Linked DNA regions of Homo sapiens: regions 1, 3, 4, 5 and 6 are each reported to be linked to region 2. Evidence: microRNA targets listed by miRTarBase, many of them from high-throughput screens and not tested one by one. Region 2 holds a microRNA gene; each other region holds the end of a gene's coding sequence. Distances are between the middles of the regions.
The links. The annotated mature microRNA hsa-miR-196a-5p reads UAGGUAGUUUCAUGUUGUUGGG and lies in region 2 at 1,375-1,396, opposite strand. An mRNA with a match to its seed (bases 2 to 7 or 8) in the 3' UTR can be bound and repressed. Matches are read on the target gene's strand: a 7mer-m8 pairs with bases 2 to 8, a 7mer-A1 pairs with bases 2 to 7 and ends in A, and an 8mer does both.

Region 1 (5,214 bases), not on the chromosome of region 2:
ACCCTCCCCACATTACGTCTCTTACCACTGGAGTTGTGAGAGGTAGCAGGGCATGGCTTATGCGCCACTGGCCTCTGTCTTTTTGGCTTAGACTTTGAGTATTGCCTGTACCATGGTGGCCCCACTATAGAATGCATTCTCTTTTTTGGGGTCCTAACTGTCATTCCCAGCAACCATGTGTGAGTGTAGTAGGCTTGATGATTGGGAAGGTTGCTGTGGGAGGCGATGCACTGTCCTGCTTAGCCCAGTTCCACCTAGTGGCACACTCTTTCCTTTCCTCCTATCTCATTCATTTGCTGACAATAAACATGTATGACTTGTAATTTTATAAGCAATTCTAATGCATTTTTAAAAACTAATGTAAATTTTACCCCTCTCATTCTAGGATATGGTGGTACCAGGAGACGATAAAGTAGAAAGTTGGAGTCAAACACTGGATGCAGAAATTTTGGATTTTTCATCACTTTCTCTTTAGAAAAAAAGTACTACCTGTTAACAATTGGGAAAAGGGGATATTCAAAAGTTCTGTGGTGTTATGTCCAGTGTAGCTTTTTGTATTCTATTATTTGAGGCTAAAAGTTGATGTGTGACAAAATACTTATGTGTTGTATGTCAGTGTAACATGCAGATGTATATTGCAGTTTTTGAAAGTGATCATTACTGTGGAATGCTAAAAATACATTAATTTCTAAAACCTGTGATGCCCTAAGAAGCATTAAGAATGAAGGTGTTGTACTAATAGAAACTAAGTACAGAAAATTTCAGTTTTAGGTGGTTGTAGCTGATGAGTTATTACCTCATAGAGACTATAATATTCTATTTGGTATTATATTATTTGATGTTTGCTGTTCTTCAAACATTTAAATCAAGCTTTGGACTAATTATGCTAATTTGTGAGTTCTGATCACTTTTGAGCTCTGAAGCTTTGAATCATTCAGTGGTGGAGATGGCCTTCTGGTAACTGAATATTACCTTCTGTAGGAAAAGGTAGAAAATAAGCATCTAGAAGGTTGTTGTGAATGACTCTGTGCTGGCAAAAATGCTTGAAACCTCTATATTTCTTTCGTTCATAAGAGGTAAAGGTCAAATTTTTCAACAAAAGTCTTTTAATAACAAAAGCATGCAGTTCTCTGTGAAATCTCAAATATTGTTGTAATAGTCTGTTTCAATCTTAAAAAGAATCAATAAAAACAAACAAGGGGTTTAGTCTCATTCTTTCTATTAGCCTAGGCGCAAATAAATGTTACTTTTTGTTTTTTTAAACCCTTTTTCCCAAAGGGGAAAGTTCATGCAGAAGTTCTGTCTCCCTAAACAGTAATTTTATGTGGTAGTCGTACCTTAGTCTTTTGGTAAATGTTTTCAAAAAGTAATTTACAAATGGTGTGGAAGCCTCTGCCAAAAAATAGCGTTTGAAAAAAATAATTAAATCTCCAAGCCTCCCAACCCATCAGAGATTGCATGGTTACACTTAGTTAAGCTTCATAACCTCAAAGCCCCAGTTTTATATCTTATGTGTTTAATGATTTTTGCCATTTAAAACTGCAGTTACTTTTCACCAACCAATAAGAACCAATTTAAAACAAACCCTTATTAAGACTATTGCATAATAAAACTATCCTCTTTTCATCAGTAAAACAGTAGAAATTTTAACTGATAGAAGAAACACAGCTTTACTTTATGTATATCCCACTAAATCCTTACCCCATTTCTCCTTAGTAGAAGGATATGGAATAAAAGAGAATGTAGTTTGTTGCTTTTTTTTTTTTTTTGAGACAGAGTCTCTCGTTCTGTCACCAGGCTGGAGTGCAGTGGCATGATCTCGGCTCACTGCAACCTCCTCCTCCTGGGTTCAAGCAATTCTCCTGCCTCAGCCTCCTGAGTAGTTGGGATTACAGGCTCCTGTCACCAAGCCCAGCTAAGTTTTTGTATTTTTAGTAGAGATGGGGTTTCACTGTGTTGGCCAGGCTGGTCTCGAACTCCTGACCTCAGGTGTTCCACCTGCCTCAGCCTCCCAAAGTGCTGGGATTACACACGTGAGCCACCGCGCCCGGCTTACTCAGATTGTTTTTGAACATAGTACTGCAGATCATTGGGATTGTAAGAAAATAATGAGTTAATGTAAAGAGAGTTGACTGTTCTTCCTGTAGGCGATAGCTTTAAAAAAAAAGAGTTGACTTGGTGGCTTTTAGATTACTCTGGGGAGCCCTAGTGGTGTTCTTATGAGGTTCTTTAGAGGGTCCCTGGAGGGAAGGGAGGAAAAGAGGCAGAGTATAGGTTTCAAGCCCCACCTGAGTGTTCCTCTTTTATCTGTTGTGTATTTGTACTTCCTTGTCATTTAAGAACTTTTTTTTTTTTTTTTTTTTTTTGGTAGAGATGGTGTTTCACTATGTTGCTCAGGCTAGTTTCGAACTCCTGGCCTCAAACAGTCCTCCCACCATGGCCTCCCCAAGTGCTGGGATTACAGGCATGAACCACTACTCCCGGCCCTTTGTTGTCTATGGAAAAGGTTCACATGTATCACTTCCCCAAATGTAAAACTTAGAATAATAAGATAGTACAGTCTAAGGCAGGAGGATTGCTTAAGTCCAGGAGTTCGAGACAAGCCTGGGCAACATAGCAAGATTTCATCTCTACAGATTATTATTTTAATTAGCTGGGCATGGTGGTATGCACCTGTAGTCCTGGCTACTCCAGAGGCTAAGGTGGGAGGATCACTTGAGCTCGGGAGATTAAGGCTGCAGTGAGCTGTGATTTTGCCATTGCATTCCAGCCTGGGCAACAGGGTGAGACCTTGTCTCTTAAAAAAATAAGGTGAGAGCATTGATTGAGAAGCAGTGGGATCCTGAAAAGTGGAATGGGGACATAAGAAAGGATCCTGATGAAGCCAGTGAAATGGAACCCCTAAATTCTGCGTAGTATTTCTTGCCGGTAGAAGCAGCCCTTCTACTTCTGTCTGAGAAGGTTAATCCTACTTTGCCTGAAGGATCTGTAATGGTCTCTTCAGAGGTGTTCGTTACCAGGCATCACTCATCTGCCTCAGGGTCTGCCCTTGCTACCTGCTTTGCTCCTAGATGTACAGCTAGACTCACGTTCCAGTAGGCACCAAAGAGTGAGGTACAAATTATGATCCATGAGGAGGTACCCTGCACACCAAAAGGACTCCATGATTTTCCCAGTCTATACAGATAGAAATCTGGGGAATATGTGTGGGAATGGATCTTAGAGTGTAGGATATGGTGGTAGGACTGTAAAGTTCAGTCAGGACAACTTTATTGATATTGGCCCACTCAGCAGAGATTCTGGATTCAATATTTGAGAGGTTAGAAAGGACTCTTAACAGTTTAGTTGGTTTGCTGAACATGGACTCGAAGATGGCCTACACTAAAGTCAAAATGCCAGAACTGCCTCAGTGTACTGTGGAGGAAGGGATTCAAAGGCTCAGGGAGATTGGAATGTTAGGGTGGATTTATCATATAAGCCCCACCCACCCACCCTGGAGGAGTCAAGAGAATACACTTTTCACCATGATGGTGAGAAATAGATTTTTGAGAAGGAGGCCCACAAATTTGGTTTCTCTTCTTTGTAGGTCAGAATGTACAGTGGGAACTGCTACCATCAAACTGGGACCCCTAGAGGCAGTGGGGTTAATTTGATCCCAGGGTAGCAGGGGCCAAATGGTGACAATCAGCAAAGATAGCGTGGCATGGTTATGCTGTAATGGGCAGCAGAGTCAAAGCAGCCATCAGAATTGTTGGACTCAGGCCAGGAACACTGGCACATGACTGTAATCCCAGAACTTTGGGAGGCAGAGGCAGGAGGATTGCTTGAGGCCAGGAGTTTGAGACCAGCCTGGGCAATATAGTGAGACTCTATCTCTACAAAAAATTTTATGAAACAAAAATTAACAAGAATTGTCTGACTCAGAGACCTATGGCATTGGCTGGTTGATCATTGTGTACCTATGGAAGAAATAGATGGCAGTCTACTAAATTCTTATTTGATTTATGTATGTGGAAGAGTTCTAGGCTGAGTAAACGGAAGTCTTTTTTTTTTTTTTTTTTTTTTTTTTGAGACCAAGTCTCACTCTGTCACCCAGGCTGGAGAGAGCAGGGGCATGATCTCGGCTCACTGCAACCTCTGCCTCCCAGGTTCAAGCAATTCTCCTGCCTCACCCTCCCGAGTAGCTGGGATTACAGGCGCCTGCCACCATGCCTGGCTAATTTTTGTATTTTTAGTAGAGACAGGGTTTCACCAAGTTGGCCAGGCTGGTCTCAAACTCCTGACCTCAGGTGATCCGCCCGCCTCGGCCTCCCAAAGTGCTGGGATTATAGGTGTGAGCCACTGTGCCCAGCCAACAGAAGTCTATCTTAAGTCACCACAAGTGAGTCATAGCCTCTGAATCATTTCCTAGACTTGAGCTGGTTTATAGCTCCAGAATCCCTTCAATGAAGGAGAGGCTGGGTTCCCCTTGAGGAAGAACCCTACCACATTGCCAGGTTTATATTGTTTATCTTTCCCCCAGTCTTCCCTCAATGGACCCGTGGCTATTTACTGGGGTAACTATGCCCTGGGGAAAGGGAAAATAATCAGATAGTTTAGGGATTACTGGACACTGAATTGATGCTAATTCCAGGAGGCTCAAAACATTACTGTGGTCCACCAGTCAGAGTAAGAGCTTATAGAGTTTTAGCTCAGATCAATTTCACAGTGAGTCCCATGGGTCCCTCGAATGATCCTGTGATTATTACACAGGAATGGAACCTGCGTTCTAGAATGCAGGATTAGAATAGACATACTCAGCAACTAGCAGAATCTCTACGTTGGGTCCCTGACCTGTGGAATGAAGGCTGTTATGGTGGCATAGGCCAAGTGAAAGTCACTAGAACTACCTCTATCTACAAAAATGATAAACCAATAGTGGCTGTGATATGGACACTTGATTAAAGGGGCTGAGAGGACTTGTGGGGAATCCCAATTGGAAGAACATCCAAGTTAGAGATGAAGGCGACTAGGGAGAGTTGGAGTGAGGAAATGGGGTGAAATGGAGGGACACAGAAAGTGCCTGAGCTCTGTGCCTCAGAATGTGATCTTATTTGGAAATAGAGTCTATGTTAGTCCATTTGTGTTGCTATAAAGGAATACCGGAGACCAAGTAATTTATAAAGAGGTTTAATTGGCTCACAGTTGTGCAGGCTGTACAGGAAGCATGGTGCC
Region 2 (5,000 bases):
TTCTTTTTACAGCACTTTTCCTGGGAGGGGGTGGCCAAGGGACACCAGGGATGGAAGACAGTCAGGCTCTGAGTGACTGGGCAGGTTTGTGAGAGGCCCAGGGAGAAGTGAGATAAGGCCGCAGGGACGCGCCAGGCCATCTCCACCCAGACCAGAGGATGAGAAACTGTCAAGGGACAGAGTTGTTAGCCTTTGCTTATCAGGACAGTGGGTTGAAGGCTCCATTTCCCCTAGGCTAGGGGTGGGTCTCCCTAATGCCCCTCTGCTCTAGCAGAAGCCCCTTGTTCAGAGACCCCCTGGCCCTCCAAGTCAGCCTGGCGCCGAAGCCCCATCCGGTCGGGCCTCTTTCCCGGGCCCCTTTGCACATTTCCTCTGCCTCAAGCAGCAGGGGGAAGGTTTGGGAACAAAAGTTAGCTTATGCTTTGGAAAGTCCCCCTTCTTCCACCAGCACTTCTAGTTATTCCTTTCCTGGGCACAGGGCCAACAGCCTTAAGAGGACCGAGGTCAGAGAGGGTATCAGAGTCTTGCCCTGCCCAACCCCTGGTTTCATCCCTTGTCACTGCATCAGTCGGGGTTGAATTGTCCAACAACCTGGGCTCCCCATTAGCTTGCAAGTCAGGCCCCTCTCCAAGGAGGTGGCACTCAGGACCTATGTGTACCCCCAGCCCAGCCCAAGGCCAGTGGGAAGCCTTTGGCCACTGGGGTGGGTGGGGAGGAAAAAGTCAACTGAGGGATTAGGAAAGGAAGGACTTTTCGGACCTACTTCTGTAGGTCTGGTCCCATAGGGGGCCTTCGACAGGACCCTGAGGGCTTTAGGCTGAGATTGCAAGAGCTCTCAGTGTTTGCCTTTCAGAATGAGACCTACTGAGCCCTCTTCAAGGACCTGAAGCTTCCTGCTGAGGTGGAGCACCAGCCCGCAAAGAGTTACAAAAACCTCAAGAACCCCCTGCATTTCTTTTGAAATCAAATATTTGTGAAGTTGGGGAGAGTTTCTCTGGAAAGTTCTGGATGTAGTTGAGAGCTCAGAGACCCTAAGGCTGGAAGTTGGAGCTCTGACTGCCATCTTTGGGTTGGGCTGAACAGCCCAACAGGGCCAGGGAGGTGCCTCGGGAGAGTTGACTGCTCCTCATCCCCCTTCCCCTCCTAACACACACACAAAAAAACATTCAGAAGTGGGAAGACACTTCCCAGATCTCTTCTCTGGGGGAACATCCTTGTTGCTCCTGGATGAAGGACCTCAAACCTCTTCCCCATTTTGCAAGGTTGATCTTCCAGTCCTGATTCTGCTCCCCTCCCCCAACTCCTCCAGCTAAGCAAGGAGCAGTAACTGCCGTGAATCGGGTGGTTTAATGTTGTTGTGTTCAGAAACCCAGGCCCAACAACATGAAACTACCTAATTCACTCAGCAGTTCCAATTCAAGCTCTAGGTCAAGAGCTCACTGGGGGCAAACCCTGTGGCCATTTTTTTGTGGGCCAAAAAGCGGCTTAACTTCATTTTGCTCCACCTCTTCCCCAACAGAAGAACCCAGTTGCTACTAAACAACACATCGGAAGAACTGAACCCAGGACTCTAGGTAAAACCATTTTGGAGCCGGTCCTGATAGCTCAGATTCCAGAGACATTTGCTGCCTTCCAGGAGCCCTGGCCAGAGAAGAAGACCCTAGACACAGGCACAAGCCTGGGCAGGGCCTCTTTGATATACCTGCTCAGTCTCTGCCTCTCAGCCCAGCTGGAGGTCTCCACAGATAAAAAGAATTCTCAACTTCAAACAGATACGAAGGTGCATCTATACTCAGCACCCTGCTAGCCCCTGTATTCCAGGTCACCCAGCCTCCCAGTGTAGCTCTGAGAGGCCAGATCTTCAAGTCCTACACACCCCCCAGCTTTGAGATTGGGGCTCAGACAGGAGAGTGAGACAAAAGAGTGCTGAGAAAGAAAGTGACAGAGAGAAAGGTGGAAAAGCAGAGTGTCAGAAAGTTTCGGGAATTCTAGGGAACAAACAGAGGAAGAATGGGATTTGGAGGGGAAAGCCGGTTGATCTGAACAGTTGCTGTGAAGGCACCCTGCCCAAAATGTCCCAGGGCCCTGGCTCTGCAGAGGCCGAGCTGCCCCAGGTAAGACAATTCATTCCGAATCTTCGCAGAATAAGGACTGAGAGGCTAAGGACTGGGATTGGGACACAGAGAACAAATTTGCTTCCTCCTTCCTGACCTTCGGTCTGGGTCCTTGGCCCCCTAACGTGCCCGCTCCTCACCTCTGCCTCTCCAGACACCCGCCTGCTCACAGGTGCTCACGCTCACACCCGCACCCATCGCAAAAACGCAGCTGTGCAGGCCGAGGGCGGCGGCGGACTTACCTGGGCGGCGGCGGTGCCGGCAGTGCGCGGCCGTCGGAAGGTGCGGAGCCAGCGGCCGCGGCCCAGTCCAGGCTCCCTCCCGCCCTCGCCCAGAAGCGAGGGTCCGAGTGGCCACGTGTCCGGCAGGGAAGTCCGAGGTAGCGAGGGAGTCCACCTGGCCGCCCGCTCCCCCTCCCGGGTATAAATCTTGGGGACCGGAAATACAATAAAACTTCACCGTGTTGATGAACTTCAAACGGTTTACATCCCCTCCTGTCCTGAAAAGAAAGACGTCCGGGGGCGGATTAAAAGGAAGGGGAAACAAATTTACGAGCGGCAGAAGCACCCGCCTCGGCCCCTTTCTTTGCCCGCACACTTTGTCCGCGTGGAGAGAAGCAGCCCCAGCCCCCGGGACTTGGCCTCCGCCGAACCGGCCGCCAGGCGCGCTCTTCTCTCGGAGGAGTCGGCGCTGACCCAGCCCGCGCCCGGCAGAGACTGGAAGCCGCCGCCTACACGGAAAATCCACAGAGCCCCGCGCAGACCCTATGATCGGCTCGGCCCGCCGGGCTTGGGATGAGGCTCCCTGCTTCTCGCTAGAGCAGAACTGGGCTCCCTGGCGCTTCCTTGCGAAAGCCCAGGCTCTCCCAACCACGCCCGGTGGCCTCCATTTTTTGCATCTTTCCGCTGAAAGCGGGTTTTTTCTTTTTTCTTTTTTTTTGACAGAGTCCTGCTGTGTCACCCAGGCTGGAGTGCAGTGGCGCGATCTCGGCTCACTGCAACCTCCGCCTCCCGGTTCAAGCGATTCTCCTGCCTCAGCCTCCCGAGTAGCTGGAACTACAGGCGCCCGCCACCACGCCCGGCTAATTTTTGTATTTTTAGTAGAGACGGGGTTTCACAATATTGGCCAAGCTGATCTTGAACTCCTGACCTCGTGATCCACCCTCCTCGGCCTCCCAAAGTGCTGGGATTACAGGCGTAAGCCACCGCGCCCGACCCAAGGGTTTTTTGTTTTTGTTTTTTGTTTAACTTTACTTTTCTCTTTCCTTTTCCGTTTCTAGCGGCCAGACCTTTGCCCAGCCCTGCCCGTTTATTGCCGGGTACTTGCTGGAAGGGGACAGAAGATAAGACTCGGGGTGACTCCCAAGGCCTGAAGGGGGCTGATTGGGCCGGGGGCTCCCAGAGGATAAACCTAGGGGCCGGTCGGTCTTCCTCGGCGTGGAAGTGAGAGCCACGCGGCGTGGCGGAGCTCCACCACCGTCTCCTTATCTCTTTAAAGCCTCAAAATCAAACAAAACCACTACTACCCAGGCCTCAAGTTTCCACAGTTTTTGTCTGCTCTGGACCGTTTACTTTTTTTGAAAAAAGAGAACTTGGTGGAATCCAAATTCTCTACTAGGCCTCCGAACCAAAACGAAGGAAAATCCGTTTTCTTCTTGGGCTTCAGAGAACTGGGATCGAAGTGATTGACTTCCTGCTCCTTTTGTCTGCTCCAGGGGCCTGGTTAGGTGCCCTTCTGGATGGGAGAGCAAAAGGTTCTCCATCCTGCCTCACAGTTATTCACCTCCAAAACAGTTTTGAGACACAATGGATGGCTAAGATTAGCTCAGGCTCAGGCAGAGTGTTCAGGTACAGGAGTGAGGTCCAGCTGCAGGCCCAAGAGGGGGTTTAGTGCACTGAAGGCACCCACCTTCCCATAGATACACACATAGATAACCCCACTCCCCAACCCCAAGAAAAGGCACCAAAGTGCTGCTGGATATTTTAAAAATCTGATTAAAAAATAAACGGGCAGGGAAAATACTAGGCAGTATAGGTTTTGAATTTTCTGAAGGGTTAACTCTGCTGCAGGCAGTCCCACTCGGCCCCAGCTCTCCAGAGGTGGGTGGTGGTCTGGGGGCAGTGCCCTCTGGCCCCTTCCTAGCACCAAAAGGGAGGAATTGGGGAGCTCTTTAACAGCTGGAGGGCAGGAAGTATCTTATTTCTGGCCAACATTCATATTCCAGTATTTGCATGGGGAGGCCCCTCCAGCCTCCCTCATTTGCTCTTTATCATGTTATATTTTCATTCAAAATACTGAGATGGCAGCTACTGGCTGTCACTTCTTCTATTAGGATTTCCCTCTGGGAGGACGGCAGGACTGAGGGGCCAGCAGTTTCCAGACCATTCAAGAGTGTTATTACCCATCCCCTACCGGGCACCTGGTGGGGGCCGGTGTGCTGGCTCCCAGCCTACTGCTGGCCTGGGTCTCTGTGGCTCCCTGGCTGAGAAAAGGAGATGGAAACCTTTTATAGTCTTAGACTCTTTGGAAAAACTGAAGAGGCCATAGCCTTAGGATGATGCACCTGCACACCCATATGTTTTGCATACATTTCCAGGGGCTTTGTGGCTTCCCCCTACCCCCATCCCAAGAACCCAGGCCATGGATTCCAATTAAAAAAACAAAATTATCTGTATGGTGCCAAAGGACACCCCAAAGCCATTCCCATAGATACCAGCTGTGTCTTTCCGAGGGCTCCCCAAAGGATAAGTCAACTTTCAGAGGCTCAGCACAGACACCCATGGCCGGGGTGCTGGTGCCGCTCATACACTAACTAGCTGAGATGATGGTCACTCCGTGAGTAAAGGCCAGTTAGGCAACATTTCTTTTCACCCCCAAACGTTTTCC
Region 3 (5,236 bases), not on the chromosome of region 2:
CACCCCCCATGAGGCCTGACCACTGTGTCTCTCTCCTGGGCCACAGTGCTGAAGAGTGTCCCTTTCACGGCCCGTACTGCCAAGCGGGGCTCACGCTTCTTCTGTGATGCAGCCCACCATGATGAGTCAAACTGTTAGCCCCCAAGGTTGGGGCCCGACAGGTACTGGGCACCGCAGCTGCCCCCTCTGCATGCCCGTCTCCCAGGATTCCTGCTGGGAGACCACAGGCACCTTCTTTCCTGCATGACTTGCAATCACCCTCTGGCAGCCTCCCAGCAATGGGGACACATACTTCTTGCATGCCCCATGCTCTGAGAAGTGTGGCATATCCCCTGCATGTGTCCTTAGGGAAGTGGTCTCTCTCCCACTAATGCTGTCCTGGCTTCTACTAAGACCAAGTGGGTAGGGAGTCACCAGGCCAGTGTTGAGAACAGGCCAGAGCAGGCAGGACCAGACCTACAGTTCTGATCTTTGAGGCTGAGGTTGAGGGTCCATTCCCAGGCCTAAGGAACCTTTCCCTACGGTTCTCTTCTCATAAGAGCTCTGGTAGTAGCTTCTGACCAGGAGGTATCAGATGTCCCTTGATCTGTTTCCTGACGTCCAGTCAGCCTGGGGTCTTTTCCTAGTTTCTGGCTCTTTCTGAATGCATCTACCTTGTCTCTCTCCACTGCCCAGTGGCCTCTAGTCACCCCAACCTGATCCTCTGAAATGCAAAGCCCAGCAATCTCCCCAACCAGCAATTTCCCCAACTGGGTACCCCTCAAGCCTTATCTAAGCCTCCTGTTTATCTGCCTCACTGCTGGCTCCTCCCTGGCCCTACCTGTGGGGCTGCTCTTGAGGGCACTGTCCTGGCTCACCCTCCCATCCTGTTCACAGGTCTCTCTCTTCCCCCACAGGCCTCCACTGCCAGCCTATGGTTGTTCGCCACCAAGCCAGGAGTGCTGCACCGCCCAGTGGTCCCCCTCGGGCTCCAGGCCCCCACTGAGACCCTCTCGGAGGCAGAAGCACTTCACCCCTCAGAGTCCTACAAGTCCAACCAGTGGACCTGGAATTGGCCAAGGGCTCAGGAGAGGGCTGTGTTGCTCTCTCAACCATGTCCGCCCCAGCTCTTGAGGCTGGATCTTTCTACTTGTGCCACTATGGGCACTAGGTCTGTAGGTCCCTGGTGCTTCCAGTACTGCACTTTGCCCCCAAGGTCTTTGACTTCATTTCCTGAAGGGTCACCAAGGGTCAGCTCAGGGCTAGGAAAAACCATTTCCAGCCTTAGCCTAAACAGGGCACATAGATCTCTCCCACTAGAGCCCAGAGGGATGAGAGGAGAGAGCAACTGTTCTTTCTTTTTTTTTCCCTTCCTTTTTGCAGGCCCATGGTCAGCTCTGGTCTAGATGTATCTAGGCTTAGGGAGCCCTGGGACCCTGCCAGTCTCAGTTCATCTCTTACCAGGAGCAAGGCCCTCTGAAGCATGGGCCGTGCCAGCTGTGCCCTAGTGATAAGGGTAAGAGGAGAGATGTCAGGCTCACTGCCCTTATTTCTCTGCCCATTTCATTCTAGGCTCACACTGTCCTTGTCAAGGTGGGCAGAAGAGCAGAGGTCTTCTCTGCACCAACCACTCTCTGCAGATGGCTGGAGAAAGGGTGTGCCAACTCTTCACCTTCTTTCCTCAGCTACGGTTTTTTTTTTTTTTTTTTTTTTTTTGGCAGGGGACAAGGAGCATGGTGGTCTTGGCTATTTGCTTACCTTCCCGTTTCTCCTCTGCCCCTGGAAGGGAATGTGGGGGCCCACTTTTTTGTACATGTACCACCTCCCTTTCCTCTTACTGTACATAAACCTCAGACTCTCCCCCTCTCAACAAAGGCTTGATGCACCAGGCCTGACTTTGTCTCCTCTTTCTGAGCTTAGGGGGCTAGGGTGGCCATTTAGTCTGACCTGGGCTATGGGGATAGAAAAGAAATCTTTGGGGCACTGCATCTGTTTTGGAGGAGATGAGATCAGAACTCTGGGGAAAGGAGAACCGGCTAGGTGGGCTCTAGCCACACAAAGGGAAGCAGGCCTGCCATGAGACACTAGTGCCCTCTGCTGGGCATGTGTCCAGTCCCCAGCCTGCCCCAGTAGCACATGGAAAAGAGTCACTGGCCATGTTATAAATATTGTTATTTAAAAAACAAAAAACAAAACACACGTACATTAGGTCCTGGGTGGAGGAAGAAGTGGTGGAGCCTCAGGGCCAGGGCAGGCAGGAGCAGGCACTGATGCTAGAGGGTGATGACCCTGCCCTCTGCCACCCAGGCTGCGTCCAACAGCCTGTGACTCTTCCCTGGAGACCCCTTCTCTCACACTTTTATCTACTGGCATCACCCACCCCACATGGCATATACCACCCATCTCTGGTCTGGGGCTGAGGGCAAGGACTGCACTAGTCCAGGGAGTAGGGGACCCTTGAACACCAAGAGCAACCTTGAGAGGTGCCAACAATGGTGTGCTGGGGGTGGGGTTACTTTAGAAAAAGTGGACACAGACCAGACTAAGGAAGAAGTCTGAGGCAGACGGTGAGGGTGGCCCAGGAGCCATGGCCTCACACAGACCCGAGGCAGAGAACAGCTCATTGGGTCACTGGTGATCATCCAGCTGCTGTAGGAGTGTCCGCCGCCGCCTCTCCAGCTCACCCTCACTCAGCTCACTTTCTGACGTGTCCCAGCCTGTCTGTTGGAGCAAAGGCACAGTTCACCCTTAGCCTGCACTAAGGGCCGTGGAAGCTTGACCAGCGTGCTGACTGGCCTAGGGCCCCTGCCCCTCACCTTCTCCTTCTTGATTCCAAAGCCTGGGGAACGGTTAGGGAGCTCTGCCTGTTGGAGCTCCCTGTCCTTGTCCTGTTCTTGTTCTTTCTCATCGCTCTCCTTGCCAGCTTTCTCCTCAGGGTCTGTCTCACTCTCAGGACTATTCTGTAAGAGTCCAGAGCCCACCTCCTCAGTTCCTGTGGATAGCCTGGGAGGCAGGTAGAACAGAACTCACAAAATAGCAGGGGCTTAGGTAGAAGTTCCTTCACTCACCGACTTGTGTCTTCTCTTCTTAGTTTTCTTTTTTGGTTTCTTGGCTTTCCGAAGGCCATGATCTAGAGATAGAAAAATCCCTACTAAGTCCCAACAGGAGAAAGACAGGCTCTTTTTCTTTGTTCTAGCCCCTCTGTTCATTCTTCACAGGCAGGAACCTCATGCTCTGAGGAAGTCTAAGTCCAGTTTTCCTTCTCCAGCTTCTTGCTTGGGCAGGTAGAGGAAGTTCTTTCTACTTCCACAGGTGCAGCCCTCCCAATCCAGTCTACCCTCAAAGGAGCTGGGGCTTGTGGAGGGCATCCTCTCAGTCTGGGACAACAGTTCTCCAGCTTCTACGCTCACAGCAACTGCTTACCTGCTCCAAGAAGATGGGAGGAAGGGGAGCCCCGTCCTCCAAGGGCAGCACCCCCACTTTCAACTGAATCAAGTGAGGAAGAGGGCTCAGAGCCTGACTCTGAGGGGTTCCGCCTCCTCCGCTTGGGGGGCCGGAGAGATGGTGGGGGCAGCTCCTCTTCTTCTGACTCAGAGCCCTGGGCAGATCAGCAGATACATGTCAGTGCAGAGGTTCTCTGCCCTCCAGAAGCCCTCGTCTGGGAATTCGAGAGAGGAGGAGGACCCAGGGCCAAAGGAATCCTCAAACTTCCCTCCAAGGGAGATATTGTAAGGGGAAAACAAAGTGTTTATTTCCCCAAAACAACCCAGCTTCACCCCATGTCCCTTCTACACGCTTACTCACTGAGGGTGAGTGGGAACGCTTGTGATGGTGCTTCTTGCCTTTCCTGCCATGCTTTCGGCCTTTGGTGTGGAGGTGCTGGCATTCAGTCTGCTAGAGGCAGAGGAAGAAGGGTGAGGACAGCACCAGACTTAGCCCCAGGAAGGATCCTACTTCCTAAAATCTGGCTTTGCCTCCCTTTCTCAGACTAGAGCCTTCTGCCTATCCCAGGGATCCTCAGGCCTCCCCTTCCTTAGCTGGCCAGGAGTGCCCTAAGGGTAAGAGGGAGGCCACTGAGGTCTCTGTTGAACTGGTCTAATGAGTTCAAGGGCCTGAGGCAGATCCAGAGGACAAGCCTGCCTCACCTCCAGCACCTGTAGGAACTCCCGGAAGAGCCGGATCCGCTCCGACTCCAGGGTGATCTGCTCAAAGGCTGAGTCACACACAAAACGCTCACGGACCTTGAACGAGGAGAGCACTGCTGATCAGACTAGGCCCCACTCAGCCTGGCCTGGACACCGCCATGAGCACAGGGCAGGGCTGGGGCAGAGAAAGGAAGGGAACTGGAGCTGGCCCAGGGCTGTGACGTGACTGGGGTGGGCCCTCAGTGGTGAAGCACCGCTGCCCTCAGGCTTGAGGGGTGCTTGGGGCCAGGCTACGCTCCTGACCTCTTCCCAGGCAGTGCCTAGCTCCAGAGCAGGCACAGCCTGCCTCAGCATGCTTCGAAAGGCAGCTTCCCTGCGCCGCATCCTGCGTGCCTCCTCCTTCTCCCGCTCCCTCTCCCGTGCCTCTGCTTTCTCCAGCAGCTGAGGAAAGAAGGGACACGGAACAGGGTCACCCAGGAGGGTGGATGCCAGGTCCCACTCAGGCATACCTTAGGAGGTGGAAAGTTAGGGTCTGGGCTTCTACCACCATCCCCTGAATTGGGAATATAGTCAGTGGGACAGTGAGTGAGAAGGAATGGAGCAAGACACAGATGAATTAGAGAACTTCCCACGCCCCGCCCAGCCCCTCACACTATTGAAGGTCAGCTTGATGTTGCCTGCGTCCAGTGCGGCAGCCCTCTTGTCAAAGCTTATGACGTGGGCGAAGTCCTCAAAGGCCGTGTTCACCTCCACGCAGAAGCCCCGGTCCTGTGGGTACAGCAGTGCATGAAGCAGGGGCACCACGTGCCTGAGGCCAAAGCTGGCAGGCAGAGTGGTCACATTACAGATGGTCAAGAAGGCCCTTGCCTCTGGAAGAGATCCACAGGACTGTGGTCTGCATTAGAAACCAAGTTATCCAAGTCCTCATCACTTGACAATTAAGCCCCCATGCCTACCCTTGGTTTGGATGTCACACAGAGCTGAAGGGGTTGGGAGATGTCTCCCAACTGCTGATTAATGCTGAGTTTCTCAAAATTAACTTTTGTTCCTTTGGCTTAAAGCTCTGGCCCCAGCTGGGCCCTCCTGCTGCTCAGCAGTGCTTCCATGCATTC
Region 4 (5,236 bases), not on the chromosome of region 2:
AGTTTTCAATAATCAAGGGCACAATGTAAGTTACATATATACTTTTATTATTATATATAATTTTATCATATGCACAAATAACTCATAAATATGTATATAAAACTAAAATGTCCACAATTTTTCTAAAAGCACAATTCACAAATGCAATGAATTGGATAGCCATTGGCACATCAAAAATTTTAATAAGTATAAACTGGTCAATTCCAACCATTTGGTAATTTACAATGCAGGTTATCACAGTATCAAAATACACCTTATTAAATTTGTAAAGAATATGCTATGTTGCTAGCTTCCCAAACCAACTGTTTCTAACCAAATAAAGCATATTATTTATATTGGCATACTATACTCTTGCCTGACAGGCAATATTTTTAACTCTAAGAGGGGTAGGTAAAAGATCAGTTTTTTGGAAAATAAAAGATTTATATAAAAAGTCTGGATAAAAAAGCAGTGGTTTAGTACAGATGATTCAACTTTTGGTGAGGTTTCTGTATCTATTTACCTTTTAGACATGGGGAGACATGAGTGCTATGATAACATACGGTTTGGGGAAGGCAGATTTCTAAAGGCTTTTCCTAACTGTAGAAGCTTGTCAAATTTTTATATAACATACAATTTTTAACTGTCAAAGATTCTGTGAAAGTACACAGAAGCAGGTCCGTGTAATTATTTAAGAACAAGGTAGTTTAAAAAATGTGTTGTAAAGCATGGAAGAAAATAATAATAGGTAAGGAAAACCCACAAACATCTGACTCACAAATATTTTCTTATACAGATGCTGAGGTAGAAAAAGTCAAATATGCTTAAGAAGAAAACATACGAAGGATAGGTAAAGATATACAAGTTTTAAACTATGAAATTCCTCTAATGCAAATGAACTCAATACTGAATGACTTTTCCACAGTCCTCCATGCTTCCTTCCTTGCCATGGAAACGTTCTAATTAAATTGAAATTTAAATCATAACCAAATCCAAATGCCTAATAAAGTCCTTTCATCACTCTGTTGTCCTTCAGTTGTCTTTTATACTCTATCTGGTATTTTATAGATATTATTTGACTGGAATACTCATGTATCCAAATGTATATTTTAATTTTCTTCCTATTTAAGTGTCTTCAATTTCTATAGGAAAGAGGTCCTATACAGTTTCCATGCTGTAAACTGAATGAGGCTGAGTGTAGGATGAACATGGCAATCAGAGAAAGCTGCTAAATGAGCCTCTTGTTTGGAAAGAGATAAGCTTGAAGATAAAGGTACAGTCAGATAGGTGGCAGAAAGTCTCCAGACTGAAGGGTTTGAACATCACCTTATAAACAATGGTAAGTTACTGGAAGTCCTCGAGCAGAAAAGTAACAAGAGGAAAACAGTATTTTAGGAATACACATTTCAGAACATAAGCTGTAGGAGAAGAAACCAGAGGTAAGGAAATAAGTAGTGCCCAACAGAAAAAACAAACAACCAGTGGATGCAAGGCACTGCAAAAAGATAAAAAGAAGCCTAAGATCCTGTAATGGTAATCAACTGAAAGTGGGAGAAACATGAAGAACCTAAAATGCCTCTGACATTTCAAGGCTAAATAACTTAGGACAATAGTGTATTCCCTGGGTAGAAAATGAAAGCAGGAGGTAGTCTGAGATTTCAGGAGACTCCAACTACAGAGGTTTAGAGATGAATTAGCACTAGGTGGCTCATCACGCCTGTAATCCCAGCACTTTGGGAGGCCGAGGCGGGCGGATCATGAGGTCAGGAGATCGAGCCCAACATGGTGAAACCCCGTCTCTACTAAAAATACAAAAAAAATTAGCCGGGCGTGGTGGCGGGCACCTGTAGTCCCAGCTACTTGGGAGGCTGAGGCAGGAGAATGGCGTGAACCCGGGAGGCAGAGCTTGCAGTGAGCCGAGATCGTGCCACTGCACTCCAGCCTGGGCGACAGAGCAAGACTCTGCCTCAAAACAACAACAACAACAACAACAAAAAAAAAAAAAAAAAAAAAAAGAGAGAGAAAAGCTGGAGTTATCAGTTCACCACTAACAGAATGTTGAGACAAAGCAGATGAAGGGTCGTATCTTACGACTGGGGACAGGAAAGAAGACCATGAAGGTGCTCTCAAGATACAGTGGTCATTTTTGGTCTGGGGACTGGTTCCAGGATCCCCTGTGCATACCATAATCTGCACTTACTCAAGTCCTGCAGTTAACCCTGAGGAACCTGCCTCTACAAAAAGTTGGTCCTCCATATACTCAGATTTTGCATCCCACAAATACTGTATTTTAGATCCACATATAAGTGGACCTGCACAGTTCAAACTTGTGTTGCTCAAGGGTCAACTGTATATGTAGGAAGGAGCAGTACCATTGTGGAAATGATGGGAAGATAAAAGAAAATACAATTGTCACAGAGAGGACAAAGAACATGAGAAAGGAGAACAAACTCAGATTTGACCAAAAGACAATGGCTTGTATTACACTGGTAGAAGCAGCAGCCTCAGAAATTACAGGGTATTTAGGGAAAGTGGCTATTAAAGAAGCAGGTATAAGGGACTCCAAGTCTGGGAATGAAAGAGGGCAAGATTGTAGTAATAAGTGAAGGATCAGTGAAGATTTTAAAAAAAAGGAACTGAGCCATAAATTTTCTTCTTTTTTCAATTTAAAAAAAAGCTTTAAAAAAAGTTACTTATACATAAATACAAAACATATAATACACACACATATTGTTACACACTTTGTTGTTACCATTCTTAAGTACAAATTTTAGTTATTCTTAGTATCTATAGATATATGTCCTAAAGCATGATTCAGTAGCAGCTTTTCCTATCCTTTAAACGTTTTCATACTCTAAGGAGCAAGATTCTCAAAGGTATCTTTATCAATCTCCTTTGGAAAAAAAAAACCCACACACACACACACACACACACACACACACACACACACACAAAAACACATATACACATAAATAACCTCTTTAAAGGCATCACCTTAAATAGATAAAACTCCTTAGTGACTGCTGGAACTTTCCAAGCCATACATTATTTGTTTAGTAAGTCACTATCATGATGAAAAGAAATTCAGTGTTATGAAGTCTATTAAACAGCCTTAAGCTTTCATTTATTCCCTTTGATGAAGCTGATTTGAGAGAAGGACCATTTATATGTTATGAAAATAACAGACACTCCTTTGGATTTCACAGATTATAATTAAGAGAACGCTATTAACTACAGAATACTGATTGCAAAGTATTTCATTTTTAAAGATACTCCTTGAGCCAGAGAAGGGTTGAAATGTTTTCTTGAAGGAAGAGTAGAACCATGATAAAGACTATAATCCCAAGAAGGAAACAAAGTACTTCAAAGTTAGAAAACATGATGTAAGAAAACATTGGAAAGTGGGATCATTCATCTGGGACATATCATTAGAGAAAGATAAAATTGAGAGGTGTTCTTTGCCTTAATTGTGCACGAGTAATAAACTAATCGTGTCTGTACATTTCCCAACAGAATTTGGGCCACCAAATATTTTCACGTACATTATCCCATTGATTCTCACAACAACACTGTCAAATAGTAAAGGGATTCTTCTTTTCTTCTCCATGAAGAAACTAGACTGAGAAAGGTTACGTAACTAGCTCAAGATCATAAAGCAAAGCTGAGTTTGAGACCCAGGTGGGTTCCCAAAACTAGGACTGGAGCTCTTTCAACCAAATAATGCTCAATAGGAAAAGGAGTCAAGGACAAGCTCCAACTGGTAAAACAATCTGGATGAGTTAAGAGTTCAAAAGTTGAGAAACAATGTTGTTAAAGGAAACTAAACAGGTTTCTTGGATAAAATGCTAAGTTATAAGAAGCTCTGGCTAAAGAGCAAGAAGATGGATCAGCTGACTTCTCAGACCACTACTATTGTTACTTTTCTAGAATATTTTTATTTACTCTCCTCTTAAAGTCTCCTTTATTTCCTCCTCCTGATATGATTTTTTTTTTAATGACAACTCCAAAAGAAAGGATGAATAAAAAAAAAATTTGGCAACTCTTGGAACCTAAATATAAACCCTGTTGGCATGTTTACACTTCTTTTTGGATATCAGCTGTATAATCCTTTAGCCAGATTCAGTCTCATTCCTAACACAGTTAAGTGTGCTTTGTAAGGGTTTTCTTTGTTAACTTGCCTCACACATATAAAAAAGAAAAACAAATACACAGTCACATTTCCCAACACCTTTCCCCCACCAAAAACACAGTATAGGGTAGCCAGGTACTTTGAAAAAGTATCATTTTAAAACATAACTATTATTGTAAAAATAAAAAATAAACATGACAAATCAGTCACAAGGCAGGGAGGCAGGAAGTCATACTACAACAAAAAGTCTATGGATGAAGTATCTGCTTAATACTCACACACAGAAAACACTCTCAGAAAATGTTTCTTTAATTTAGTTTAACTAAAATTTCATCAAGGTAGAATGCAGTTTTGTAAAAAGTTCCAAGGATCCTATTACACAGTTGCTAATTAACCTTCAGTTCCTTATTTATACATTTTTTACTTACAGATATAAAAGGAAAAAAAATCCTAGAAATTATTTTAAACAGAACATTATACAATTAATTAAAAGTAGGAATTAGAGTGGAACAATGTGGCTTTAGATACTGATAATTAATAGACAGGATGAATCACAAAATATATTAAGTATTATCATTTTCCAGTCTCTGCATCTCATCTTGTCCCATCTGTCCAAGGTGAGACAAAAGTTTGCTATAGGCTTCCCTGTTTAAGAAAAAAGAAAAGAAAGCAAATATATTAACATTTTCATTATTTTTCATTTCAGTATTTACAAATTAAGTCTGCCCATCATCCATCCATCCATCTATTCAGCCATCCATCCAGCAGGCTTAGCACAACACTTCTTAAAAAGTAATGCTTTATATCTATTGTGAGTAAACCTAGATGTTAAGATGTATTAAAGTATGATTTTTATATATAAAATGTGTGCTAAAAATGACATGTAAAAGTTCATTAACCTTCCGAAATATTATAATGCTCACGGGTAATAAAATGCATTCATGGAATATTATTTAAGGACAATGATGGTATGATTACAATGGGAAGACTTGTATCACAAGCGTAAGTATTAAAACAAAAATTCTGTAACCATAAAATAGACCTGTGTAGCAATTTCAGTATATATCCCATTTTCTTCTTTTAACTTCTTATAAGTAACAAAGTTTGAAAATAAAATATTGTTTCTCC
Region 5 (5,200 bases), 25 Mb from region 2:
TCGTGTCACCCTCCCCTTTGAGAGTCCTAGTGGTGGAAGGCGGGAATTTCTGAAAGTGACTTTTTTTTTTTTTTTTTTAAAACATGAACTGCAGAATGAAAGTGACTCTTATCAGGGATCTCCGAGTAGCCTCTCCAAGATGACTAAAACACCAAGTCATGTTAGTTACATTAAAGAAAAAGTTAGGCACGCTCATGTACACACATGTACATATGAACTGCAATAATGCCAACATAAGATAACTTGACCAGAAGTCTATTAAAGTCCTTTCAGGGTCTGTGTCCTGCAGTTACAGAATACCATTTTGTGTCTATGATGATCACAAAATTGGCATAGGCTTTTAGTTTTTATCTTCGCTTATACCCAGAAGCCATCTTATTTGTCACCTTTTTTATACTCTGTCCCAATGACTCATACATTCCCTTGGAGGCTGAGAACTGCCTTCTTTGGTTGGAAATTATTGAAATGAATGGGAAAAGCAGGTATAGAATATGTGCAAAAGAATTAGGATATAGTTGAAAGGATTTGGAGTTAGGCAGCCCGTGCTTGAACCTGGACTGGACCCATCCTCCTAGAGCTGTGTATTAAGGACAATAAACCCTGCTCAGCCTGACAGGGTGGCTGTGAGGAGAGGATGAAACGTTTTAGGAGAGCGTACTTTATCAATTCCAAAGCCCAGTATATGTCTTCATCCTCAAGCTGAACTGGAAAGGTACTCTTAATAGAGCGCTGTACATGAAACCACAGTAAAGCTCTTAAACAAAACAGCCTTATTGTGACCCTGTTTCTTTCTTCTTCCTTCCAGTCTTCAGGCAGTGACAGTGGTGGGAGCAGCAGCAGCAGCAGCAGCAGCATCAATAGCCCGGACAGGGCCAGCGGGCCGGAAGGCAGCTTGAGCCAGACCATGGCCGGATCCAGCCCTAACACGCCTCAGCCCGTGCCCGAGCAGTCCGCGCTGTGCCAAGGCCTCTACTTCCACATCAACCAGACCCTGAGGGAGGCCCACTTCCACAGCCTACAGCACCGAGGGCGGCCTCTGACATGATGTGCCGGCAGTTTCTTGCCTTCTGTGAAGGGACAGCGCTGTGCAGATTTGATATTTCAACTTACAACTTGTTTTAAAAGAAAAATTGCACACGAAAAATGCCTGTTGGCTTTTCAGTCTATATTTGAAATAACAGGTTAACAGGCAGTTGTTTACTTGTGGTTTTGCTGCACTATTGCAATTTCAAAGGGGCTTTGAAGCAATTTTTTATAGGATTCTTTTGAGGGAGGGTATCAAATCTATGTCAAGGTAGTGGTTTGAGGAAAACTCATTCTGTGTGTTGAATCCATAGTATGTCCCATTCAGACTGATTTCCAAATCTGTCAACTAGAAACTCTACTTTATGTAAAGGGCCTTTTAAAAATGCGGGATCTTCAATTTTTTTTATTCAATAAACTAGTAAAGAGTATCTAGTTTCCATGAAAAAACATAAGTTTTTTTCCAAAATATAGGAAGCTTGATTCAGTCTTGCACTGAAATTAACTGCCATACTACCTCTCAGTATGTAGATGTTCTATTGAAAGTACTCTCTCCTGTGTAACAGGAGAACAATCAGATCCAATTCAGACTGTCAGTGAAGCACACTCCCTAATAATAGTCTCTACTCTTTGTTATATATTTGTATTTCCAGAGAGAATGTCTTTTAGATTCTTGTATACCCAGATAACTTCTGTGTCACTATTCCACCAGAGTCTGCACCTCAGACTTTAGTAGGAAACATGGCACAGTTCTGCAAGTAAAGTAATATGTAATGACTTTTTGTCCTACAAACTTGGTCAGTCAGCAGCTTACATGATCTCATTGACAATTCCACCTTGTAGTGTCAACAATTAAGGTGTTGTTGAACGCTGATAAAATGTAAGCTACCTGAACTGATGTCTAAAGCAACAAGTATTGTGAAATTTTGGGACAAGGATTAACTTGATGCTTAAAGTAACCCCCAACAGTAACTAGGGGGCCACATTCCATCAGTGAAACTGGAAAGATTGGTGTGGCTGAGAATCAGATGAGCAGAGGCACCTTTAGAAGAAATAATGTGGTAGTATTTATTTAGGGAGAGACAGATGTGTTGCCATGTTACTTAGTCATACTAGAGAGCCAGCCAAGTTTGAATAATGAAGGTGCAGACGTGTTGTCTTCTTCACTGACAAGCTGTCTGAACAAGGAGCCAGGAACTGTCGGGTCACCAGCTGTGGAGCGTGCCGGGGGGACAACCTGCCATTGGATGTAGAGAAAAGTGCCTTAGAGTTGGCCTGAGCCCTCCTGCCCACTCGCCCTCCGCGCGACGCCACTCGGAGTCCACACGGCACACACAAGCGGAGCTGAGAAGCACGATGGCTCTAGTCAGAGGACTTTGCTGTCGGTCCAGATTTGAAGAGGACACGGAACAGCATGAGCCTTTGTGACAAAACTAGAATTTGGAAATGAGGACTGTCTTGGGAAAAGGGTAGACACAGGCACTTCTCTCCACAGCCTGCTAACCTAATGTGGGCAGAACTGAAAGATCACTGCAGTGGAAACTGTTCTGGAAGAGGCTGCAACATAGCCCATGCTTAGGGACTGGATGGTTTTTGCAAGAGCTTTTTTTTTTTTTAAACTACCATCTCCCAACTTTTAAAGCCAGATACTTGACAAGGATTTTAGATCTTAATGGGTTCGATGGTAGGGAATACGGAAAGGATACACTGCTAATATTGTGTCTAACAATAAAGCAAACAACTCGATGCTGTAAGAAGACAAGCTGTTTGAGCTTTCAAACACACATGCACACAGCACAATTCAGAAATACCCAGGAGGATTCCTGCAGGCTTAACAGTTGGCATCGTACTGAAATGAAACGTGTATTAACAAGAAAATGTCAAACTTTTGGGGAAACAAATTTTCTGTTACTTCCCACCCAACTAAAAGGGAAGATAAAACCATCATCACCAGAACAAAACAGATTTTCTCCAAACAAGTACAATGATAGTGCCGGGTTGGCAGTTAACTCTTTCACCCTACTAAATTCAAGAGCTCATCTCCACCCTGTCCTGTATATTTTCTACATTTCTATTAAGAGGCTACTTGGTAGTGTCAGCGGGCATCTTTTACACCTTCTAGTAGCTCAAGCTAGTAAAACCTTGTACTTCTCTATTGCGCCGCCATTAAAAGCAGCATTAGTGCATTTTGTCATTCAGTTCTTAATCAGTTATTTAAAAGGGAGCTGATCATGGGTGGCTCGGTGGGAGGTGGGGACCCATCCACGGATGAGCCTCTTGCTCTTGGCACCAACCTGAGCTTTTGTTTCGATGTTTCTGGTTGATTTAGCCTTTCGAGTGCTTGTCATGCTCAGTGGGAGAAGTCCAAACCTCCAAAACAAGAGGAAAGAATTTAGTAGCACAAACAGGCAGCTCTGGGGCCCAGCAGAAGCCTCATTTTTTTTTTTTTTTTTTTTTTGAGACAGAGTCTCGTTCTGTCGCCCAGGCTGGAGTGCAGTGGCGCAATCTCGGCTCACTGCAAGCTCCGCCTCCTGGGTTCACGCCATTCTCCTGCCTCAGCCTCCTGAATAGCTGGGACTATAGGCACCTGCCACCAGGCCAGCTAATTTTTTGTATTTTTTTTAGTAGAGACAGGGTTTCACCATGTTAGCCAGGATGGTCTCGATCTCCTGACGTGATCCGTCCACCTTGGCCTCCCGAAGTGCCCCGCAGAAGCCTCTTGGCAGCCTTTACCTGATCTGACTGGATGCCAGTGGCAGGATGTTATGGGGTTCTTGGGAGTTGAACGTACTGCTCCGGGGGGCGAGCTGATTCTCTGTACCAGTCACCAATCCAAACAGAACCTGGCAGACAAGAGGTGGAGCAGAGGTTTCATTGTGCAGGTAAAAGAAAGGCAAAAAAAAAAAAAAAAAGGTTAGTCACCCATCGCTACCGTATTTCTAACTGTCATTTTGGGGAATGTTCTGAGTGCATTTATGCTTCACGATTACTTTTTATCACTGCCCACAGGTCAGAATCTGAGAGGCAGGGAGTTTTTATTCCTCTTTCTGAGGCCTGGATAAAACTGTAATAATCCTTATTTACAACTTAAGGGGCCAAATCTTGGTTGCCTCAGTGTGTGAGATTTTATCTAATCCTCTTTCAGTCCTTATAACTACACTCGGCTATTTGTGTCTTATTCCCCTCCCTATGCTGCATCCTGGAGTATTACGTGCTTGAGCAGGTTAATTTTGTTATTTGAGCCTGTATCGCTTCGTTCGCACTAAGCATGTTTTTGATTTGACTCACAGAAGTTCGCTGCACCAGGCGATGAAGGTTGCTGTTGAGGTGTGGCGTGAAAACGTCCAGGTCAAATGGATCAATGAGGGCTTCCAGGTGGTCAGTCACTTTCTCAATTCTGAGAAAAGGATTAGGATCATTACTGTCCACATTTTTTAGGATCAAAAACAATCTTATGATATCCTACTGCTGTAGAAATCTTGGAGTTGGGTTTTATTCTACTTAGTTGCTGGCTTAGTACGTTTGTCACTGATGATAGTGCTTAAGTCACCCTCAAGCATGATGTCTAAGTGAAGTCCACCCTTTCCCCCGTTCTGTCTATAAGGAGGGCACTAAGGGCTCAAATGATACTCAGCAGCTGCTAGGCTGACTCAGAAGAGAGGGGAATAAGAGTCCACCTATTTCACTTGACCATTGCATTTATCCAGCAGGCGGCCATTATTTAACTTGCTGGCAATATGAGCACTTACTGTTCAAAACAAACACAATGAATGTGCAGTATAACAGGCTGACTCTGGTGGCTTCCCAGCAAAGGGACTATTTGCTTTTGGAAGAGACCGCCTTGACATAGCTCCCTAGAGGATACGACACCTGGAGTCTGGCTTGCTCCGGCCACTCTTCACCTCGTCACCCTTGGCTGTCAGAACAATGTTGAGGTAACGCAGATCATAAAGCAGCTGCAGCGCCCGGTTCTGGGTGACTGGAAATGCACCTTCTTTCTGCAAATGAATTCCCAGTCCCCACCCATGAAGAGAGAGGACTTGGTATGTGAGCGTAATAAACAGCTTCAAGTTTTGGTTGAGTTTCAGCTTGCTATTTCAGAAGCAGATGGTTTTAATGCTCATATGGCCAGTTTAATCTCACAACAACAAAACAAATTTTGTTAGAAACTTGACCT
Region 6 (5,236 bases), not on the chromosome of region 2:
AGCGGGAATAACAAAAACCAGAAGAAGCTTCACTTGATTATAATTAATTTGCAGTGGTTGGTAAAGGCAGGCACCAAGCCAGATTCACCACTTTATAAATAATAAATCTGTGGGGGTGATGTTGTGAAAGATGCATGGTAAGGTTGCATCAGCAAGGTGAATCACTGAGTGGGTGGGACCGTCTAGAAAAGCATCTGTGTTTGGAAAGGGATCATTCTACAGCTTAGTCCAGAACACCTTGAACACACAGCATAGCAGAATCTTGACTGTAATACTTGGAGCAAATGTCACTGGCAAAAATGGCATATATGCTGGGATGTTCATAACAAATAGTTAAATATTGTTGGTCCTTTCGCATATAGAATCTCGGTATTAGAGGAAAATAGTAAACTGAAACTCTATTTCTGTTCTGCAAGAGCCAATTTCACCTATTGTATTACTTCGTTACCAATTGCAGCTGTGTAGTCAGTCATCCATAGGATTCTTTTTGTTAGACACAAAGTAGAAACCAGCTGTTGGCCGTTGAGACAAGTAGGAATCTTAGGAAATGTTAGCCTGCCAGTTCCTACTTTTCCTAACTACCTGCCTCACCACCCCCATCAAATGGTGGTCATGTTTTTTGTCACCCACCATTCAGGGGAGATGCTATCAACGAACCACGCTGGCTACACACAAATACCTTTTCCTCAGATGATATTAATCATCTTTGCCTTAAAAACTGAAGCTCTACCAAGTTTTCACTATGAGAGAAAAAAAATTACAACACCTAGCCTTGTAGTTAACACCACAACTGACTAATGGAAGTTGACAAGATCTAAATGCTTATACAAACTATCCCAAGGTCACAGGAAATTAATGGCAATATTATACAAGGTTAGGGTAGTTCACTTTCTATAGGAATTTGGATTTTACTTCTTAAACTACAATGGAAATGTCTCAGGCAGTCTGCTTTGGGAATGTATTCTTGAATAATACTGATTTCTCATTGAAGGAAAAAACACTATATCCAACAACTCAGATATGGCAGAAGTGAAGTCAATGTTCCGGGAAGTTCTTCCAAAGCAAGGTATGTACATCACAAATATTGAGGTCATTGATTATTACAGGACTAAAGAAGTCATAGGCAGTGTCACATAGCAGGCTTAATAGCTAAACATCTGCAGCTATTGTGTTCCGTATTATCTCATTTACTGTCTTTTACTATATGCTTTTTCATGACATCCAGTAAAAGGATAACAAATGAAACATTGTTTCTTATACCTAAAATTGCCTATTAATTAGCTAATTCCTAAAATTCCTAATTACAATATGAATTTTTTTTAAGAGACAGGTTGTCACTCTGCCACCCAGGCTTGGGTACAGCTGGCACAACCGTAGCTCACCGCAGCCTTGAACTACTGGGCTCCTGCCCTAGCCTACTGATTTGCTAGTACTACAGGCATGTGCTACCATGCCTGGCTAATTTGTTCTTATTTTTGTAGAGAAGGGATCTCAATGTGTTGCCTAGGCTGGTCTCAAACCCCTGGGCTCAAACAAACAATCCAACCCCTTTGGCATCCCAAAGTGCTGGGATAACAGGTAAGAGCTACCATGCCCTACTCAATATGAAACTTCAGTGAAAGAAATAATGGAATTTACTATGTTAAATAAGGTCTGAAAGTGGAGAAAGAGAAACCTGAAGCAACAGTAAGAAAAGCCGAAGGTTTAAACCTTCAGTCATTTGAATATTTACGTTAAATATCATATTTTGCTATATTTTTTTGCACTATGTATATATATATTCTGCCAAATCTTATTTTAAGATTAAACTTCTGACACAAAAAGTTGTGTCTTATGGTAGCATAGATTCTTGGGTAGAACGCTCAAAACTTGTCTTCCTCAGAAGCACCCTACTAGTAAGAAATGCGCTTATAGAATGACAATGATCTTTCTGGTTCCAGAGCAAAACTCAATTTAGGTACAAGAGTTTTTCAGTGACAAGAGATTAATTTTTTAGACCTTCATTCTAGCTGCAAATCCAACTACAAACAACTGGGTTATCTTTCTTGAATTAATTCTTATTTCTTGTTAAACTTAGGGCCACTGTTTGTGGAAGATATAATGACAATGGTGCTGTGTAAACCCAAACTTTTACCCTTAAAATCTCTGACTCTGGAAAAACTAGAGAAAATGCATCAAGCAGCACAGAATACAATTCGCCAACAAGAAATGGCAGAAAAGGATCAACGGCAAATAACCCACTGAATGATAACTGAGCACTTTAGGGAACAACCTGCCTTATCTACTATTTAACAATAACTAGAAAATATGCTTCTGTGTGCTGAAAGTAGTATGTGTTATCAATAAAATTGATAGTATTCATAGAAATACAAAAATATCCAAGATTGATGAAATTTGTATTGTGAATGTAAACACTCTGGTTTGTATTGAACATAAACAGTTAAACTATGAACCAAGTTTTATGGGGTTTAAGTCATGTTTTTAGAATTGCAAATTAAATTATTTGTTCACCATTCCTATTGCTATCTTTTATAGATAACATTCTTGGGATCTTTTATAGCATTCTTGGGCACAAGGGATTAAATACAACTTTTATATACAGAGGATCTTTACATGTTTATTAAATCTGAATTTGAAGATACATTCCAATCTTGCATAAAGTGTTTGTTGGGCTTTTACATTACGTAATTAAAAAACAAAATTTTTTAACCAATTTTATGTGCCATGTCACGTTTAATGCTATCTTGTGTGACCAGATCCCACCAGTAATGACAAAACTGTCTTAAACCTCATTTTTTTTTTTTTTTGAGACAAGAGTTTCACTCTTGTTGCCCAAACGAGAGCAATGGCACCATCTCGACTCACTGCAACCTCTGCCTCCCAGGTTCAAGCAATTCTCCTGCCTCAGCCTCCCAAGTAGCTGGGATTACACGCATGCGCCACCATGCCTGGCTACTTTTGTATTTTTAATAGAGACAGGGTTTCTTCATGTTGGTCAAGCTGGTCATGAACTCCCAACCTCAAGTGATCCGCCCACCTCGGCCTCCCAAAGTGCTGGGATTACAGGCATGAGCCACCGTGCCCAGCCCTTAAATCTCATTTTTAAGAAACCCTCACCTATTCTGTAGTCAGCTAAGCTTTTAATTACATTAATTTTAAGCACTTGAGAATAAAATGACTGCATTTATCATCCAAGTGTCAAACAATTAAAAACCTAAAAATGGTAACTATATATAAGCTGAGGTAATATGGGCTTGATAAAGCCCATGAGGTAAATATGAACACTAAACTTGGTTTTAATTCTAACAGACTATATCTAAACCTGTAAGCAGTATACTCCTAACAGTACCCTCATAAATTCTGAATATAATTCTTGTTTGCTGCAGTCAATATTTGGCAGTTTAAATTAGCACAGACGTTGAGGCCTTGCTGAGTTATTAGGCTATGTAAAAGAGGTTAAAAATATGATCATTCTTTATTGTTAATTGGTAATATTTTCTCATACATTAGGTAAATGTCAAGCTTTGGGTCTCTGGAGTATAACTTTTTGTAACATTAGCCATTATTTGGTAACAGAATTTAAGGATGATGGAATGATGGAAGGTATTACATATTTCTAAAACTTAATTAAGCTCTAGGTCAGATAACAATGGAGTAAAGTGATACCTGCATTTTTTTCCCCAGTGTAATCTTAATTTACTATTGTATTTTTCACTTAAAATTTTGTAGGGAAAAAAAGTTTTCAAGGGAACACTAAGATTAAATTGACTAGGTTCAAATATGCTTCCTTATGAGATTCAAAATTTACTGTGTGAAATTAAAGTTTAAGAGACCTAAAAAAATGTACTCCCAATAAAGAATCAATACTGCTTCACATGTTTTATTTTGGTGTACATTCTTCTAGAACCAGGTTCATTTTTCCAGTTTTGTAGAAAAATAGATGTTCCAGCCACCTTTTACTTAACTGTCTAGTCTTTTAAGACCAATCAGTATGTTCCCTGGAAAGATGAATAAGTCTCATGACTAATTTTTTAAAAATTCTTTAAGACAAAGAAATAACTTTCTTTTTTTACTCCCAAAGCACAGTATCTCAACAGCAGCAGCCAACATGGGGTTTTAGCAGCTTAACTTTACCCCCTAAATAAAGCTTTGTATAAACCAGTGATTTTACTACAAAAAACACTGTCCTTGAAAGAAAGGAGTGGCAGTCAGACATCAATGCAAAACTTGGAATGATTAGATAATAAACATGGCACTTACAAAAGGTAGCTTATTAGAATATTCCACTTAAGAAGAGGTTACTTTTCTGTCCCTCCTTGCCCCCTCGAAAAACAAAAAAAAAAGAAAAAACATTTCCTTTAAAAATTCCCCTTAAATGTAGGTTTATAAAATGTCAGAAATGCCTTGTACCCAAAACAAGTGCTTAAAAAAAAAAAAAAAAAAAACTTGTGCTAACAACTCTTACAATTCAGATATATATTTTTATAACATCTAAGACTGCAAGAGTTCTTATATTCAGTAGCTCTCTGGTTTAAGACGACCTCCATCTCCTTCGCTTACAAAACGCTTTCTGCCCCTGTAATGAAGAAAAAAAAAGACATGAAAACAGATACAAATTCTGACTATAGTCAATATATAAAAAAATTAAAAACTTGGTATTTTTTCGTTACGTGTTAGCTTTTAAAGGGTTTTCCATTAAAAAAAAAAAGCATGCCTCTAATTCCTTTGGAAAAGACTCCCTACTATATATCTTAGCATAAAACATCAATATCAAATCTGAGTTTTTGTTTTAATAAGTTCACTATCCAAACAGAGTCACATTAAAAAAAGTTGACTCAAACTAAAACATTTTATTTAGAAATTTAAAATTATTTCTAATTAATTTCTAATTATTATTTGTAAGCTTAACAGTAAGCCAAATAGGAAACACTAACATAATTCAGAATTATGCAAACTGGAGCTGTGCAACCTATCAAAATATCCATGTTTGGCAATTTAAAAAAAAATGTTTTATCAACTGTAGAAAAGCCATAACTTGAATGTGGAAAAAAATCAGAATTACAGCCTATGCCCCATTTTGGGATTCGTGCTTTGTCAAACTCAAGAAGCCCTGCTCTATAATGTAACCACACTCTTACCTACATGTAGTGGCAATAGCCCAGAAGGAACAGCTGGCCAGTGGCCTAAAGCAGTAAGTGGGAAATAGAACTTAGGCAACATTAGCCCTTACTCTCTG

Region 1: miRTarBase lists SARAF as a target of hsa-miR-196a-5p. Seed matches in the 3' UTR shown: 7mer-m8 at 485-491.
Region 3: miRTarBase lists FMNL3 as a target of hsa-miR-196a-5p. The part of its 3' UTR that is shown has no 7-base or 8-base seed match.
Region 4: the mRNA of MMS22L is a reported target of hsa-miR-196a-5p. Seed matches in the 3' UTR shown: 7mer-m8 at 1,623-1,629 and 7mer-m8 at 680-686.
Region 5: miRTarBase lists VCF1 as a target of hsa-miR-196a-5p. Seed matches in the 3' UTR shown: 7mer-m8 at 1,536-1,542.
Region 6: miRTarBase lists PDCD4 as a target of hsa-miR-196a-5p. The part of its 3' UTR that is shown has no 7-base or 8-base seed match.

What each region holds. Positions count from the first base shown.
Region 1 is chr8:30,059,085-30,064,298 of GRCh38, reverse strand. It overlaps SARAF (store-operated calcium entry associated regulatory factor), which reads left to right. Exons shown (of 6, transcript NM_016127.6): 6 at 386-1,296. The coding sequence ends at 411. Among named protein-coding and RNA genes, the nearest start is that of SARAF, 21 kb to the left of the region's middle.
Region 2 is chr17:48,631,158-48,636,157 of GRCh38, forward strand. MIR196A1 (microRNA 196a-1) reads right to left here and starts at 1,402; the gene lies at 1,333-1,402. HOXB-AS4 (HOXB cluster antisense RNA 4) reads left to right here. Exons shown (of 2, transcript NR_046611.1): 2 at 3,394-3,775. It overlaps LINC03057 (long intergenic non-protein coding RNA 3057), which reads right to left. Exons shown (of 2, transcript NR_186590.1): 2 at 3,647-5,000.
Region 3 is chr12:49,641,564-49,646,799 of GRCh38, reverse strand. FMNL3 (formin like 3) reads left to right here. Exons shown (of 26, transcript NM_175736.5): 26 at 897-5,236. The coding sequence ends at 985. It overlaps PRPF40B (pre-mRNA processing factor 40B), which reads right to left. Exons shown (of 26, transcript NM_001031698.3): 19 at 4,776-4,892; 20 at 4,428-4,565; 21 at 4,125-4,220; 22 at 3,784-3,870; 23 at 3,403-3,577; 24 at 3,048-3,109; 25 at 2,796-2,939; 26 at 2,135-2,700. The coding sequence ends at 2,608. Among named protein-coding and RNA genes, the nearest start is that of PRPF40B, 21 kb to the right of the region's middle.
Region 4 is chr6:97,142,135-97,147,370 of GRCh38, forward strand. MMS22L (MMS22 like, DNA repair protein) reads right to left here. Exons shown (of 25, transcript NM_001350599.2): 25 at 27-4,753. The coding sequence ends at 4,672. Among named protein-coding and RNA genes, the nearest start is that of MMS22L, 140 kb to the right of the region's middle.
Region 5 is chr17:73,205,374-73,210,573 of GRCh38, reverse strand. It overlaps VCF1 (VCP nuclear cofactor family member 1), which reads left to right. Exons shown (of 4, transcript NM_001098832.2): 4 at 806-3,209. The coding sequence ends at 1,045. It overlaps COG1 (component of oligomeric golgi complex 1), which reads right to left. Exons shown (of 14, transcript NM_018714.3): 10 at 4,894-5,021; 11 at 4,312-4,420; 12 at 3,757-3,866; 13 at 3,318-3,393; 14 at 2,067-2,260. The coding sequence ends at 2,123. Among named protein-coding and RNA genes, the nearest start is that of COG1, 15 kb to the right of the region's middle.
Region 6 is chr10:110,897,368-110,902,603 of GRCh38, reverse strand. PDCD4 (programmed cell death 4) reads right to left here. Exons shown (of 12, transcript NM_014456.5): 12 at 2,598-4,576. The coding sequence ends at 4,516. It overlaps BBIP1 (BBSome interacting protein 1), which reads left to right. Exons shown (of 4, transcript NM_001195305.3): 3 at 992-1,066; 4 at 2,078-3,874. The coding sequence ends at 2,244. It overlaps MIR4680 (microRNA 4680), which reads right to left and starts at 4,514; the gene lies at 4,449-4,514.